Linked DNA regions of Homo sapiens: region 2 is linked to region 1. Evidence: fine-mapped expression QTL. Tissue or cell type: whole blood. Region 1 holds a variant in brackets; the other region holds the start of a gene. All regions are shown on one strand. Distances are between the middles of the regions.

Region 1 (8,000 bases):
AGAAGGAAACTAATAAAAAAGAGTATTTAGACACAATGGTATCACAGCGCTAATGCCTTTCAGATGTACCATATGCCATTCGTGAAAACATCCCTCTTTTATATTTATCTTCTTAGTTAAAAAGATATTTTTTTTCTTTGTAGACACAGGGTCTTTCTCTGTCTCCCAGGCTGGAGTGCAGTGGTGTGATCATAGCTCACTGCAGCCTCCACCTCCTGGGCTCAAGTGATCCTCCCACCTCAGCCTCCGAGTAGCTGCGACCACAGGTGTGCACCACCACACTCAGCTAATTTTTAGTAGAAAAGAGGTTCTCTCTATGTTGCACAGGCTGGTCTTGATCCTCCTCCTGCCTCGGCCTCACAAAATGCTAGGGTTCCAGGCGTGAGCCCCCTCACTGGCCCTCTTCTGTTTTAAGGGAAGCAATATGCCTGTGAGTTCCATGTTCTAAGGGCCTTCAGAGGCGATCCGGCCCTGGGGACTCGGCTTCACCTGCCAGCCTTTGTCGGCCGTCCGGTAGTAGGGGTAATGCTTGGTGATGTGGGCGTAGATCCCGCTCAGGGTCAGCTGCCGGTCCTGGGCGGAGGAGATGGCCTGCACGATCAGCTGCGCGTAGGAGAACGGCGGCTTTGACTCATCCTGCGGAGAAACACGGCTCACGGGATGAGCTCCAGCAAGGTCCCTGAGTCTACCCCACCCACCCGTCACAGCTGATGGGGAGGAACCTTCCCACGAGAATGTGCGCGTCTTGCCGGCACCCGTCCCAGTGCCCTCCAACTATCCCATTAATGTGCTTGCATTCAACTAGGAACAACCATTTTTGCCTCATGGGAAGGAAAACTTCGGTTTTATTATAATTTAATTCTGAAATTTCTCACCTCTTCCAGAAATCAATTTGAAAACAGCTATTGGACAAAAATGAACTAAGACAAAGTTATAAGGAGAACGCCATCCTGCTCAAGGGCTGTATGAAGGCTTTGACGCCGGGCTGCCAGCGGCAGATGAACAAGGAGCGTGGCGGGAGGGGCCCTCGGTGACGGCGCCACCCCTGTCACCAGCAAATGACCAACGGGGATGATTTGGGCACGAAAACGAGAAAGGGCCGACGGCTCTACCGCCAGCTGCGGCTCCATTCCCTGTGGGCTGAGACCACCTCGAGCACACGCCCGCAGGCCCTGGGCTGTCTGTGCCGCCCGCGCCGGGTCACTATGGCCCGATCCTGGGTCACCAGGTGCACCACGGCGCCAGGTGGGCTCAGACCTTGGGGCTGTCTCCTCCAGACGTGTCTGCCTGCTGCTCCGACGCGGCCTTTGCTGCAAACTCTGCTGCCAGCTGCAGGTCCGAGGTCACGTTCTGCACAAAGCGGTAACTGGAGGAGCCGGCACCGCGTGGACTGGCTGGGCAGGAGTTGGGGACACTGAGGAGAGAGAAGGACACTGTAAGTTCATGGCTCTGAAGAGGGGGCCCCTGTGGGGCTCAGGGCTTCAGGACCTACCCAGAGGGTGGGGCTGTGGGGAAGAAGCTCACACTTTCCAATTTTAAGTGCCACCACACTGCCCGGCCAAGGTCACGCAGCGGCGGGGACAAGATGCTGGAAACGGCAGGCAAGTTTCCTTCCAGTGGTGACTTCTGCTCGGGGGCTGAGAGCACCGCGGGCCCTCCTCCTGCCATTATGCAGGGCCCAGGGCAGCACCTGGTCAGGCAGCTCTGTGGGGCCCCTCCTCAGGTCCCCCCACACACACCCCTACAGGATGTGCACCCGGAGCAGGTAGCCTCCGCGGGCTGCTGGCTCCTGCACAGGTGTCCACAAGGCGGCGCTGTGGGAAAAGGCTCGGGCCCAGGACAACCCCGTGTGGTCACAGAGGCAGATCCTGGAAAGAGGCTGTGGAGGTGCCATCGCCCTGCAGGGTGAAGGCGTGGCAGGTGGCTCTCCTGGAGACACCGCCCTCGGGAAGAGATGACCCCTGCAGTTTTGCCCTGAGCCGCTGAGATGCCCCTGCCCTCATCCCCTCTCCCTCCCAGGCTGGAGCAACCACAGATGGCTGGGAGTGACCGACACCCCCGGCTGCAGGTGAGGCTCTGGGTTGAGGCCGGGACCACAGGCAGGAGGCTGCGTCCGTCCGGCTGAGGGGTGTGCTCTGGCCTGCTTCCCTAACTCACTAAGGCAGGCTTCCGTCAGCAAACCACGGCGATGTTTTGCTTCTGAAAATGATTTCTATTACAGGTATTCAGAGAAAGCCAATGAAGACACGAAGAGTGGGTGCAGAACCTCCCGAGAGAAAGAGATCCCACTGTCCTGAGCTCACGGGCACCCACCTAGCCCCGTCCTGAGATGGACCCTGCCCACCTGTGATGCTGACATCCCCCCTCTCAGCTGACTTAGAGCCCCCGTGGCGGGTAGGATGCTCCCTGCTGCACTGCCCTGCAGGCCACCCAGAACCATCCAGAACCACCCAGAACCATCCAGAACCATCCAGAAGGTCCATTCTCCTCCTCCCGCCTTGCTGCCCTTTCCTCTGCCAGGAACATCCTTCCCTAACTGTCCAGGCACAAGACTCCTAGATCTCCAAAACTTAGGTTAAGTAGGAGCCCCCTTGGGTGCAGGCGGGGCTCAAGAAACATTTTTTGGATGGAGCAGAGGAATGAATGAAAAAAATCCTGTGGCTGAGAAAAACCTGACAGCTGACATTAATGATCAGTTCAGGTCTGGGGCATTTTCAGGAAGGACTCAGTGTCACCCACATGGAACGTTAAGGACTCTGATCTGGAATTCCCATTCTCTCTTACAACGGACTCCCCAAATATGGCAGAGATAGGTAAGTTCCACACGTGTCGAAACTTAAATGAACACCCACAAATGGCTCGATCGAGGTAGGAAACAGTCAAAAGGAAACCTTTTCTGAATTTAGTTCTGAATCCAAAATACAAAACCCAAGTTTACAAGTAAGATGAGAAGGGGAGAGAAAGGTTTTGACTGGTAACAGCACACAGCCCCCAAAATCGGCTTTGTCAAAGGCCTCTGGGAACCAAACACCTCCCTGCTGAGGCAGGATGGCCTCATGGCCGGAGGGGCTGCAGACAATGGGGCCAGCACACGCCTGTGCACCCGGTCCCAGACCCAAAGCCACTGGACGTCCCCCTTGGACTCAGCAGGAAGAACTGAAATGTCAGTCCTTGCTGGGGACCACTGAGCCGAGGTGTCACTCACATACACTCTGATCTCCGGCCACAGGCTGGGGAATGGCCACTCAGCTCGGAAAATCTCATCCGAGGCCCATGAGGTGGCAGGCGGGCTCCTGGATCCTTCCTGAGGACCAATGAGGGGCACCCCCCAGCACTCCACAACAAACAGTGATGGCCCAGCACGTGTGGCAGGGACCTGCTCCTGTTCCCAGCAGTTATTTTGCAGAAGATCATAGAAAATTCATGTCTGCCGGGTGCGGTGGCTCATGCCTGTAAGCCCAGCAATTTGGGAGGCCCAGGCAGGAGGATCGCTTGAGCCCACATGGTCGAAACTAGCCTGGGCAACATAGTGACACCCCCATCTCTACAAAAATATTAACATTAGACAGGTGTGGTGGTGTGCACCTGTAGTCTCAGCTACTCAGGA[G/T]GCTGAGGCAGGAGGACTGCTTGAGCCTAGGAGTTTGAGGCTACAGTGAGCTATAATTGTGCCACTGCACTCTGGCGGAGCAAGACCCTGTCTCTAAAAATAAATAAATAAATACATAAATAAACAAAGTTTTAACATTTTAAAAATTAGCTGGGCGTGGTAATGCACACCTGCAGTTCCAGCTGTTCAGGAGGCTGAGGCAGGAAGATGGCTTGAGCCTGGGAGGTCGAGGCTGCAGTGAGCTATGATCACACCACTGCACTCTAGCCTGGGCAACAGAGTGAGACCTTATCTCAAAAAACAAACAAAAAACCTCATGGAGTAAAACCCACAGGAAAAGTTGTCATTCCCCAGAGAATGATTTCAAGTGGAAATAAGAAAGGTTGGCGAAGCCTGGCTCCCACAGGCGAGAGAGTAGGGTGGTTTCTCCGCCACTTTCCCCAGCACTGGACCTGGCCTGGGCTGCCGGATCCTGGTGTCACTCCAGCCGGGACAGGTACGACAGCGCAGCTTCTGAGGTTTTCCAGCCACCTGGGCTGAGGGACCACATGTGTTTGTTCACATGGCTCCTCCAGCCCTCGGAGCAGCCCGTCTCTCAATAAGCCCCATTCAACTGTCCTCCGCAGGCGGGCCTCGGCCACGGGGCTGTGCCTGGTACCAGGCTCCTGATACCAAGGCCCCCGATACCAGGCCTGCAGCTGACGGAGGCGGGAAGCAGAGGCTGCTCGAGCCTCACAGCCGCTAAGAGCTGTAAAGTGCCCTGGGGGAAGACAGGTCTGAGGGCGCCCAGCCAGGGTGGGATGGGACACCCAGCTCCAAAGCCAGAGGCCTTGGAGCCATCCGGAAAACTAATCAAGACATCCCATGTCTGATGCTGGGAGTCCACGGAAACATTCCCTTAGCAATCTAAAGAAAATGCTGGGCCGGGCACGGTGGCTCACGCTTGTAATCCCAGTGCTTTGGGATTGGTAATCCCAATGCTTTTGGGATTACCCGAGGAGGGTGGATCATGAGGTCAGGAGAGCGAGACCATCCTGGCTAACACAGTGAAACCCCGTCTCTACTAAAAAAAAAATACAAAAAATTAGCCGGGCATGGTGGCAGGTGCCTGTAGTACCAGCTACTCTGGAGGCTGAGGCAGGAGAATGGCATGAACCTGGGAGGTGGAGTTTGCAGTGAGTCGAGATTGCGCCACTGCACTCCAGCCTGGGCGACAGAGCAAGACTCCATCTCAAAAAAAAAAAAAAAAAAAAGTGCTGAAGGCCAGGCACGGTGGCTCACGCCTGTAATCCCAGCACTTTGAGGGGGCCGAGGTGGGCAGATCACCTAAGGTCAGGAGTTCGAGACCAGCCTGCCCGATTTAGAGAAATCCCGTCTCTACTGAAAATGCAAAATCAGCCAGACGTGGTGGTGCATGCCTGTAATCCCAGCTACTCGGGAGGCTGAGGAAGGAGAATTGCTTGAACCCGGGAGGCAGAGGTTGCAGTGAGCCGAGATTATGCCATTGTACTCCAGCCTGGACAACAAGAGTGAAACTCTGTCTCAAAAAAAAAAAGATGGGAGACCGAGGCGGGTGGATGACGAGGTTAGGAGATCGAGACCATCCTGGCTAACACGGTGAAATCCTGTCTCTACTAAAAAATACAGAAAACAAAATTAGCTGGGTGTGGTGGCGGGCACTTGTAGTCCCAGCTACTTGGGAGGCTGAGGCAGGAGAATGGCGTGAACCTGGGAGGCGGAGCTTGCAGTGAGCAGAGATCGTGCCACTGCACTCCAGCCTGGGCGACAGAGCGAGATTCTGTCTCAAAAAAAAAAAAAAAGTGCTGAAAACGACGGCATACACGTGCACACATTTCCTCCTGCGGGAATGAGAAAGAGCAGGAAGCTGAGGGGACCCCACTGCTCCCTGACAGGGACCACCAGCTCAATTCCAGGAAACAGGGAATCACTCCTTCTGGGGTAAGTACCCCAGGCCTCGGTCAGGCCCCCCCCAGTCCCTAGCTGCCCAGGTGTGGGACGCAGAGGCTGGACAGTGACAGCCCACAGACGTCGCGGGAATCAAACGCCTGTGCCCCCCGATTGGAGGCTGAGAGAGGGAAGAAGCACAGTAAGCAGCTCACCCCTAGGCCCTGATTTTGCTTCCTTTATATGGAGGACAATTCCCAAGTCACATTTCCGCCTCAGGCGAGAGAGCTGGAGGATTCTGAGTACGGGTCTCCCGGAGCTGTGCTCACAGGGACAACCCCATGCTGACCCACCCCGGGCAGCCTCCACCGCATCCAGGGGCCGGGCCTAGAAGGTGCCACTGGGACCACCCAGGACATGCCAGTGCAGGGAGACTGCAGAGGGACGGACGGGCTGTGGGACACACAGGTCGCTGGGTCACGTTATGATGAGAAGTCACGCTGAGAAAGGCAAATCCAACAACAGACCTAAAGCCACCTCTGGAGCCGCCAGCTGGGCTCCGTCCCCAGAGCCTAAGACAAGCCTTCCCCAGGGCACAGGGCTGCGGTCCTTCCAGTCCACCCTCAATGCCCTTGGCTCTGCTCTGAGGCTGAGAAGGCCACCCTGAGAGGCCTAGGGTCGGGACAGTTATCGCTTCCGGCAGGCCCAGGGAGGACAGTGCTCTGTCAGAAGGGACCTGATCCCTCCTGAAGCCCTAGAGACACAGAGGGACCCGCCTGGAGGGGCTGGAGGAAGGAGCTGCGACGGAGCCTTGTGGGCAGTGGAGGGGCGAGAAGGCTGCGGGGGTCTGCGATGACCTTTGCGTCCCAAGGCGGCACCTGAAGCCTCCTGGGGGAACCTCCCTGCAGAGGAGGACGCTTGGGGTCCCTGCCCCAGCCCCTGCTCCAATACCAGCCGCTCTAAGAGGGTTTTTAGGACCTCACTGTTAAACACAACAGCCGGCCAAGGCACATCTGTGGTTTGAGGAAGCTTCTACCAGGTGGAACATGGTGCAAAACAGAAGAGAAGAGGGACCCAGGGAAGCCTACGGGAGCTTGGGAGGAGATGAAACATGGTTCCCGTCCCTAGGGAGGTAACGATGCCGTCTCTGTAGGACAGTAAGAACAGCATGCAAAGCACACCTGCAGAGCAAGAACACGCTCTTCAAATTAAAAAATAAGAATTCAAAAGAAGAGAAATACAAATCCAAGAAAGGGTGGAAGGAGAGACTGGAGAAAATCCCTCAGAAAGTAGAGAGAGAAAGGAAAGGAGAGGCATGAGAGACTCAGCTCAGAGGCCCGCCAGGCACAGCCAGTCCCAGAAGCGTGGACAGGAACCTGGGGGTCCAGGCGAGGTGGCTCACACCTGTAATCCCAGCGCTTTGGGAGGCTGAGGTGGGCAGATAACTTGAGCACAGGAGTTCAAGACCAGCCTGGGCAACATGGGGAGACCCCACCTCTACAAAAAATACAAAAATTAGCCGGGCATGGTGGTGCACACCTGTAGTCCCTACTACTCGGGAGGCTGAGGCAGGAGGCTCGCTTGAGCCCAGAAGTACCAGCCTGGGCAACAAAGTGAGACCTTGTCTCTTAAATCAGTGAATAAATGAAAAGTCTGTCTCCTGTGCCCTTTCCCAGGAAGCGACTGGGGGATGGACTCTGGTAAAACAAAGGAACAAATCAGGAAAGAGGAAGACGTGGGAATCAGGAAACAGCCCTCTCTCCACCACCACCTCCTGAGGGGATTCCCAGGATGGTGGAGAAGATGATCCCATGGTCAGAGGGGCCCCAGAGGAAGGCCTTCACAGTAAAGGGAGAAGAGGCCATTATTAACCCCAAGAGCGGGGGGAGTGTGGCGGAAATAAGCCAAAAGTACAAGGAAGGAAATGGCTAAGCGCTACAATCACTACACAGTTCTAATACAGAAAACGCTCATGCAAGGTAAACCAGACATGATGATGTAACTTTACTGGGATGGGGAGGGGGGAAGCTAAATCCTTAATTTCCATATAGGAACCTCATGTGTAATATCTAAAACGGAAAAACCAAGAGACAGTCACGTACGAATACGACTCAGAGACACAGAAGTGAGAGAGAAGGGCTCAGCTCTGGGGAGCGTTGTGTGGGGGAATTTTCACTTTCTGAAATGTTTGCATTTTGTAAGATGCATATAGATAGATAGATAGTCTCTTCGTAATCTGAAAAAGGAAAAATAAACAAATAGGGAAAGAAAATTTTCAGAGGCGAATTTCTTAGAATGATCTTAAAGAATGTGTTCCTTTAAGATAAATCCGACATTGTAAAATGCTGGGAAGCTATTTTTAAAAATTAACTAGTGGATTGCTCCTGTAGTCACGGCTGAGGTGGGAGGATCGCTTGAGTCCCGGAGGTCGAGGCTGCAGCGAGCCGTGACCGGACCACTGCACTCCGGCCTGGGTGTCAGAACAAGA
Region 2 (9,248 bases), 71 kb after region 1:
CAGGAGATCGAGACCATCTTGGCTAACACGGTGAAACCCCATCTCTACTAAAAATACAAAGAATTAGCTGGGCGTGGTGTTGTGCGCCTGTAGTCCCAGCCACTCAGGAGGCTGAGGCAGGAGAATCTCTTGAACCCGGGAGGTAGAGTTTGCAGTGAGCCACTGCACTCCAGTCTGGACAACAGAGCGAGACTCCATGACAGAAAAAAAAAAAAAAAAAAAAGCAAATAGCTCTTTTCTAGGAGGGTGGACATGGACATCCACTTAATGTTTTTCCTTCTGCACATTTGCTTTGTTCTTGTAAATTTTACATTGCTGCCTACATAGATATTGCTCACATGTGCAGGTGAAGTCAAATAAAAACAGACAGGCGCAGTGGGCCAAGCACTTCACGCACATCTAATGCACCAAGTCAGCGGGCGGGCATCTGTGTAGCCTGACAGCCCCACCACAATGCCTGGTAATGCACCCACCGAGAACACGAGCTCCCTGGAGCATAAATGTGCAAGGACTGTATACACCGATAACATTTCATAAATAACAGGCTTGCTACTGGCCTATTCGTAGACGATCTGAGGTTGAAATTTTTTCCCCTTGAATTACAAAAAAAAAATACCGTGAAAGCCTCCTTCAAGATTCACTAAAGCTGGGCCTGACTCAGGAGTGCACCTGTTTCCACGGCAGGGGCAGGAAACCTGAAAACAAGACTTTAATGGAAGTACTTAGTGAACCTGAGTTATATAAAGGTGCGTCTGTAAAGCAGGCCTCTAAGGGGGGCCTGGGGAGCCTACCTGTCATTTTCTTACTGGAGGGGAGAGTGGCCAGGAAATGCATTTAATGGCCCCAAACGGAGAGAGTGTATTGGTTATGGAAGAGAGAGAACACACTAATATCTGAGGCAAAGAACAAATTTGTTATCTCCTGAGTTCTGATTTTACCAAAATGCACACCTTTCAGCACGGTTAGAAAAAGGTATACTTCCCCTCTCACGCCCCAAGGGGGAGTGAGTCATTGTTGATGTTGCATTTTAAATTATTCAATGCGATATCTGTAACCAAACATGCCAAGACTAAAAAAGGGGAGAAGTTTACAGACACAAACTTTGGGCCCTGGGAATTACCCCAGCAAAAATTCCCCAGACGCAAGGCGTTTATAAAAGGGAGTAATTAGACAGACAACCCTGAACAAGAACCACATTGAAGAAATATAAACACTGGTGATGAGTTAGAGGCAATCACTAAATAGAAAAAGAAAGTGGCTCCAGAGGAAATGAGTAATTAAACAGGCTTTCTCCTGATCAACAGACCTTGAGGTCCGGGGCAGAGCAGAGGGTGCGGAGGGCAGTGGAGCTGGAAAGGAGGGAACCGGAATGGGCGGGAGGTGACCACGGGATGCTACCAAAGGCACCGACAGGCCTGGGCAGCCGTCCAGGCCCAGCTGGGTCTCTCTGCCCTGGTGACCTCGGGCCCGGGGGAATCTAATTTGATCTTGGGGTCCCGCTACTCCATCCAAGGAGCACTAGTTGGGGATGTAAACTGAGGCACAGGCTTCCTGTCCTCGCCCCTCCCCGCCAGGCCTCTGCTCCTTCAGCACAGCCCACACTCCTAGGGACCTCGCACTTCCCGGAGCAACACCCTCCCACTGTCCTGGGTGAGTGTGTTGGGGTCCCCCAGGACCCAGACTGGATGGGGTGGGGGTGGCCCAAGGGTCCAGACCAGACAGGGTCAGGGGTAGCCACTGGGGTCCAGGACGGCAGGCATCAGGCACTGGGGTGACTTGAGGCCCTGGCTGGTGGGGGTCGGGGGTGGTCCTGAGAACCAGGTCAGGCTGGGGTGACCCTGGAGTCCAAGCTGGTGGGGGTCCAGGGTGACCTGGAAGGGTTGAGGGTGATCCCCAGGCCCAGGCAGCAGGGACTGGGGTCAAGGTGACCTCAGTAACCCAGCTGGGTGGAGCTGGGGTGGGAGTGGCCCTGCGAGCCCAGGCTTGTGGGGTTAGCGGTCAGGGGTGACTCCGGGGGGGCCTAGGAAGTGGGGGTCGCGGTTAACCTTGCGTGTTTAGGCAGGGTAGGGACGTAGATGACCCCAGGGATCCAGGCCAGTGGGAGTTCAGAATGACCCCGGAGTCCAGGCCGATGGGAGCTGGGGAGCAGCAGGGATCTGGGTCAGGGGTCTAAGAGGCCCAGCCAGATGGGCTTGGGGTATGGGTGGCTCCAGGAGCCCAGGCCGGTGGGAGATGAGGTCAGGGGTGACCCCAGGAGCCGCAAGGTGTGGGTCAGGGCTGACCCCAGAGTCCAGGCCGGTGGGGGTCGGGGGCGACGGGGTATCCAGACCGGGGAAAGTGGAGGAGATCCTCAGGCTGGAGCCTCCAGGATCGGGGTCGGGGTGATCCTAGGGAGCCAGGAGGCGGGGGTCGGGGTTGACCCCGGAGTCCAGGCCGGTCGGGGGTTACCGGGGGTGGGCCGGGGGGTGGGGGTCGAGGCCGAGGAAGCTGGAGGGGGATCCCCAGGCCCGGGCCTCAGAGATCGAGGTCGTGGGCGAGCCCCGGGTGCGGGCGGCGGGGGTCGCGGGGCCACTCACTGCTTGGGCAGCTGCAGGGCGGGCGCGCCGCGTCTCTGGAAGGCCCCGTCCACGAAGACGCCGTTCTTGCCGAGGCAGCGCAGGTAGAAGTGCGGCTCCTGGAAGCTGAGCTGCAGGTGGCGCCGCGAGATGAAGCTGGACAGGCCCATGCTCAAGTCCACCGAGCCCTGCGACGAGTTGCGGCCGATGGTGACGCTGGGCTGGCGCATGAGGAACTCGAACTCGCGGCCCTCCAGCCGCGCCAGCGCCGGCCCCGGGCTCTGCCGTACCGAGGCGGCCGCCGCGGCCACCAGGGCCGGCGCCGCGCCCGCGACCGCGGAGTCCCCGGATACCCCGGAGGAGCCCCCGGAGGAGCCCGCGCCCGCGATCGCGCCCGGAGGCAGCGGCGGTGGCGGCGGCGGCGGCGGCCCGGGCGGAGGCTGGGGCTGCGCGGGGGCCGGCGGGGGTGCGGCCGCGGGGAAGGCGGCGGCGGCGGCTGCGGCGCACAGCACTGGGCTGCAGGGCGCCGAGCGCAGCGCGAGCAGGGCGCGGGCGCCGCTGTCCTCGCCGACTTCGGCCATGTTCGCGCGGCTCCGAGCGGCCTCCGGCGGCGGCGGCTGCAGCGGCGGCGCGGGGGGCGGGGAGGTCGGGGCGCTGGGCGGGCGCGGAAACCCGGGCCAGATCGCGCCGGCGCGGAGCGGAGCCTCCCAGCCCACCGTGCGCCTCGCCTCGCCCGCCCGCCGGTCCCGCCCAGCGTAGCCCACGTGGCGCGCGCCAGCGCGGGGCTGGGGGCGAGGCCTGTGCCGGGAGGGCCGGCGGGCCCCCGGGAGAGCTGGGCCCGGCGCACCTCGTCCCCTCCCCGCGGGGCTGCAGGCGGCGGGCGCCCTTTCCTCCATCCAGGGGGAAGAGGGGACCCCTGAAATGCCCAGCCACAAAGTTTTGAGCCTGGGTCATTGGAGAAAGGGACGGATGACCTCAGCAGTCTCCCCGCCCCAGACACTCCAGGCCCCCAACCCTAAAGTGTAAGATAGACAGAAGATAAAATATATGTGTATTATATACAATACATATGTTTATATTCTAACCTCGCTCTGTCGCCCAGGCTGCAGTGCGGTGGCAAAATCATAGCTCACTGCAGCTTCCACCTCCTGTGCCCAAGTCACCCTCCTGCCTCTGCCTCACAAGTGCCACCACGCCCAGCTAATTTTTTTACTTCTTATAGAGACAGGGTCTTGCTATGTTGGCCAGGCTGGTCTCAAACTCCTGGTCTCAAGTGATCTATCTATCTCGACCTCCCAAAGCACTGGGATTACCCGTGTGAGCCACAGTGCCAGGCCTGATCATTCTTAAGCCCTCAGATTAAAGGTCATCATACTCTACTGTAACTGAAGACCACTTGAGATCCATCCCTGAATCCCTGATCCATCCTTCCTTCCTTCTTTCCTTCCTTCCTTCCTTCCCTTCCTTCCCTTCATTCCTTCCCTTCCCTTCATTCCTTCCTTCCCTCCCTTCTTTCCTTCCTTCCTTCCTTCCCTTCCTCCCTCCCTTCCCTTCCTCTCCTTCTTTCCCTTCCCTTCCTTCCTTTCCTTCCTTCCTTCCCTCCCTCTCTTCCTTCCTCCCTCCCTTTCCTTCCTTCCTTTCCTTTCCTTCCTTCCTTTCCTTCCTTCCTTCCCTCCCTCCCTTCTTTCCTTCCTTCCTTCCCTTCCTCCCTCCCTTCCCTTCCTCTCCTTCCTTCCCTTCCCTTCCTTCCTTTCCTTCCCTTCCTTCCTTTCCTTTCCTTCCTTCCTTCCTTTCCTTCCTTCCCTCCCTCCCTTCCTCCCTCCATTTCCTTCCTTCCTTTCCTTCCTTCCTTCCTTCCTCCTTTCCTTCCTTCCTTCCTTTCTTTCTTCCCTTCCTTCCTTCCTTCTTTTTTTTTTTTTTTGAGACGGAGTTTCGCTCTTGTTGCCCAGGCTGTAGTGCAATGGCGCAATCTCGACTCAACGCAACCTCCACCCCCTGGATTCAAGCAATTCTCCTGCCTCAGCCTCCCAAGTAGCTGGGATTACAGTCATGTACCACCAGGCCCGGCTCATTTTGTATTTTTTTAGTAGAGATGGGGTTTCTCCGTGTTGGTCAGACTAGTCCTGAAAACCCGACCTCAGGTGATCTGCCCGCCTCAGCCTCCCAAAGTCCTGGGATTACAGGCGGGAGCCACCGTGCCCGGCCGCCTGCCTGCCTTCCTTCCTTCCTTCCTTCCTTCCTTCCTTCCTTCCTTCCTTCCTTCCTTCCTTTCTTTCCCTCCCTCCCTCCCTTCCTTCCTTCTCTCTCTTTCTTGTCTTTTTCTTTTGAGACAGGGTCTCACTCTGTCACCCAGGCTGGAGTGCAGTGGTACAATCATAGCTCACTGCAGCCTCAACCTTCAGGGCTCAGGTGATTTTCCCACCTCACCCTCCCAAGTAGCTGGGACTATGAGCCACCATGCCCGACTAATTTTTAATTTTTTTTTTTTTTAAGGCAGAGTCTTAATCTGTCACCCAGGCTGGAGTGTAATGGTGCAGTCTCGGCTCACTGCAACCGATTCTCCTGCCTCAGCCTCCCAAGTCGCTGGGATTACAGGCATCTGCCACCACACCCAGCTAATTTTTGTATTTTTAGTAGAGACGGGGTTTCAACCATGTTGGTGAAGCTGGTCTCAAACTCCTGACCTCAGGTGATCCACCTGCCTCGACCTCCTAAAGTGCTGGGGCTGCAGGCGGGAGCCGCCTCACCTGGCCTTTTTCAATTTTTTTATAGAGACAGGGTCTCATTATATTGCCCAAGTTGGTGTTCAACTTTGGGGCTCAAGCAGTCTGCCACCTCAGCCTCCCCAAATGCTGGGTTACAGGCGTGAGCCACCACGCCCAGCCTATCTCTCTTTCTTTCTGGAGCCCTTCACTCATTCAATATGCTAGATCCAGCTAAGACAGATCTGAGAGAATGCCCCAGAGAGAAATCTTAGCTGAAAACAGGGAGTGGCAAACGTGGGCATCATTGGGATCCCTTTCGGACTTCAGTAGCCTGGTCCTCCATTGCCAGTTCAGGTTCCCCTAAAAAGGCGGTGCAGTTTCCACATTTCCCTCATTTACGAATTATTAAGGGTGGGAAAGGAGACACAGTTCCCTCCCTGGTGGAGCTTATAGTTGAGGGGGAGATGCAGACATAAATCAAAGACACATCCTAGAAAAAGTAAAATCAAGTCACAGCTGTGATACATCCGGTGAGGGACTGGTGCATGGTGACGTGCAAGTGTAAACGAGAGACTGGGCCTGTCTAAGGCAGGAGCTTCCCTGACCTGCACACCCACGCTCCAGTCTGGGGCTGAAATAGGTATTAATCTCATCTCTCAGCCTTGAATATGTGCATGCAGAGATAAGTGTTTGGGAGGCAAGGAAAGCTTTTTTTTTTTTTTTTTTTTTTTTTTTTTGAGACAGAGTCTCGCTCTGTTGCCAAGCTAGAGTGCAGTGGTGCGATCTCGGCTCACTGCAACCTCTGCCTCCAGGGTTCAAGCAATCCTCCTGCCTCAGCCTCCCAAGTAACTGGTACTACAGGTGTGTGCCACCATGCCCAGGTAATTTTTGTATTTTTAGTAGAGATGGGGTTTCACCAGGTTGGCCAGGGTTGTCTCGATCTCTTGACCTCATGATCCACCTGCCTCGGACTCCCAAAGTGCTGGGGTTACAGGCGTCAGCCACCGTGACCGGCCAAGGAACGCATTTTTAGCAGGAGCAGTAACTTGAGTACCTGCTTGATTGAGGTGGGGGGGATGGTAAACAGAGTCAGGGGGCTCCTCCTTGAGGTCTAAGGGATGCCTGATTAGGGAAGTGGTGTGAGACTGTGAGGGTAGTGCCCCTGCCAGGGAACTCTGTGTGATACAGAAGGAAGTATGGGCCGTGGAGGGGTAGGCAGGTGGTCACTGTGTGTGGAACCGAGTGGCCATGTTCAGCTGAACCAGGAGGGAAGAAGGGCTGAGGTGGGTCCTATAGGATCTGGGGCTGATCCTAGAGCAATGGGAAGCCACTGAGGGGCTTTACGTGCAAGACAGCAGGCACACCGACATGCAGTATCTGAAATGCAATCACTCTAGCGGCCATGGGGATCCTGAACTGGAAATAGGTCAGAGTGATGGCGGAGGTTGCTCAGGAAGCTGGAGACCAGCGAGAGAGGTGAAAGGAGAGAGGTGCAGAGAAGCAGAGGGATGCAGGAGATACTGATTTCCTGCAAAGGCATTTACACACACTGTTGGTGGGAATGGAACACAGGGCAGCCTCTGTGGGAAACAGCATGCAGGGTCCTCAAAAAGTTAAAACGAGGCCGGGCCCAGTGGCTCTCACCTGTAATCCCAGCACTTTGAGAGGCTCAGATGGGTGATCACCTGAGGTTAGGAGTTTCAGACCAGCCTGGCCAACACGGTGAAACCCTGTCACTACCAAAAATACAAAAAAATGAGCCAGGCGTGGTGGTGGGCACCTGTCCCAGCCGCTCGGGAGGCTAAGGCATGAGGATTGCTTGAACCTGGAAGGCAGAGGTTGCAGTGATCTGAGATCATGCCATTGCGCTCCAGTCTGGGTGACAGAGCGAAGCTCTGTCTCAATAAATAAACGAATAAATAAATAAATAAACAAACTAGAGTTCCCATAAGATGCAATGCAGACTTCCACTTCTGGGTTTATACCCCCAAAGAATTGCAAGCAGGGTCTTGAAGAGATACTTGCATGCTATGTTCACAGCAGCGTTATTTATTCACGAGATCCAGAAGGTGGAAGCAATCCAAGTGTGCGTTTACCCCTGTGGTACCACATACAGTGGGGTATGATTCAGACTTGAAAAGGAAGGAAACTCTGACATACGTGACATGTGAAGTGATGAGCTTTGAGGACATTATGCTCAGTGAAATAAGCTGGTCACAGAAAGACAAATGTGATGTGATTCCACTTCTATGGGGTCCCTTGGTCAGTAAGATTCATAGAGACAGAGGGTAGAATGCTGGGTGCCGAGGACTGGGAGAGGGGAGACCGGGAGTTACTGTGGAATAAGGACAGAGTTTCTGTTGGGCAAGATGAGAACATTGTGGAGGTGGCTGATGGTGTTGATTGCACAGCACTGGGAATGTGCTTCATGCCACTGATCTGTGCACTTGAAAATGGTTCCGACGGCCGGGCGCGGTGGCGCATGCCTGTAATCCCAGCACTTTGAGAGGCCGAGGCAGGCAGATCACTTGAGCTCAAGAGTTTGAGACTAGCCTGACCAACATGGTGAAACCCCATCCCTACTAAAATACAAAAATTAGCTGGGCGTGGTGGTGTGCGCCTGTAATCTCAGCTACTCAGGAGGCTGAGGCAGGAGAATCACTTGAACCCAGGAAGCAGAGGTTTTAGTAAGCCAAGATTGCGCCACTGCACTCCGGCCTTGGAGACAGAGTGAGACTCGGTCTCAAAAAAAAAAAAATACGGTTAAGACGTTAAATGTTATGTTATGTGTATTTTACCACAATTGTAAAGAGAGAGATTTACATACAACCTCCTCATACGGTCTCTTCCTTTGGACTCCTTGAGATGACTTCTGACTTCTTAATGACAGATTTATTTAATGACAAGAGGCATGTATGTACTTCCAGGCACCATAGGCCTAACAATATTAAATGTAAATAATTGTAGGCTGGGCGTGGTGGCTCACGCCTGTAATCCCAGCACTTTGAGAGGCTGAGGCGGGAGGATCACCTGAGGTCAGAAATTTGAGACCAGCCTGGCCAACATGGTGAAACCGCGTCTCTACTAAAATATAAAAATTAGTCGGGCATGGTGGTTGGCACCTGTAATCTCAGCTACTCAGGAGGCTGAGGCAGGAGAATCACTTGAACCTAGGAAGCAGAGGTTGTAGTGAGCTGAGATTGCGCCACTGCACTCCAGCCTAGGCGACACAGCCAGACTCCATCTCAAAAAAAAAAAAAATTGTAGACTAGGCGAGGCGGCCCATGCCTGTAATCCCAGCACTTTGGGAGGCCGAGGTGGATAGATCATTTGAAGTCGGGAGTTTGACACCAGCCTGAGCAACACAGTGAAACCCTGTCTCTACAAAAAATACAAAAAATTAGCCAGGTGTGGTGGCGCATGGCTGTAATCCCAGCTACTTACGGGACAGAGGCTGGAGGATCACTTGAGCTCCGGAGGTCGAGGCTGCGGTGAGCAAGATCGCCATACCACTGCACTCCGGCCTGGGGGACAGAATGAGACCCTGTCTCAAAAAAAAAAAAGAAAAAAGAAAAGAAAAGAAAGAGGCTGGGCATGGTGGCTCAGGCCTGTAATCCCAGCACTTTGGGAGGGTGAGGGGGGACAGATCACGAGGTCAGGAGATCAAGACCAGCCTGACCAACATGGTGAAACCCTGTCTCTACTAAAATACAAAAAAATTAGCCAGGCATGGTGCCGTGCACCTGTAGTCCTAGCTACTTGGGAGGCTGAGGCAGGAGAATCGCTTGAACCGGGGAGGCAGAGGTTGCAGTGAGGTGAGATCGCGCCACTGCACTCCAGCCTGGCGACAGAGCAAGACTCCGTCTCAAAAAAAGAAAGGAAGAAAGAAAGAATTGTGCACAAACTGACAAACCTAGATGATGTTTTCCCCAAGGAGCAAAACACTGTACAATAATACTGCAAGGAGTTCACGAGGCCAACTCCCTGT

Evidence for each region. PIP is the estimated chance that this variant, and not a neighbour inherited with it, causes the effect.
Region 2: it holds the start of FOXK1, and the variant in region 1 is fine-mapped to the expression of FOXK1 in whole blood (INTERVAL, PIP 0.90).

The regions. Positions count from the first base shown.
Region 1 is chr7:4,747,873-4,755,872 of GRCh38, reverse strand. It overlaps FOXK1 (forkhead box K1), which reads right to left. Exons shown (of 9, transcript NM_001037165.2): 3 at 1,258-1,414; 4 at 490-636. Among named protein-coding and RNA genes, the nearest start is that of AP5Z1, 24 kb to the left of the region's middle. RefSeq lists a silencer at 1,681-1,975 and enhancers at 1,973-2,062, 1,567-2,121, 5,530-6,029. The variant G/T (reference allele first, on the strand shown) is at 3,608.
Region 2 is chr7:4,676,197-4,685,444 of GRCh38, reverse strand. FOXK1 (forkhead box K1) reads right to left here and starts at 3,150. Exons shown (of 9, transcript NM_001037165.2): 1 at 2,577-3,150. The coding sequence starts at 3,136. RefSeq lists enhancers at 1,766-2,293, 3,153-3,447, 3,649-4,149 and silencers at 2,850-2,919, 3,070-3,439.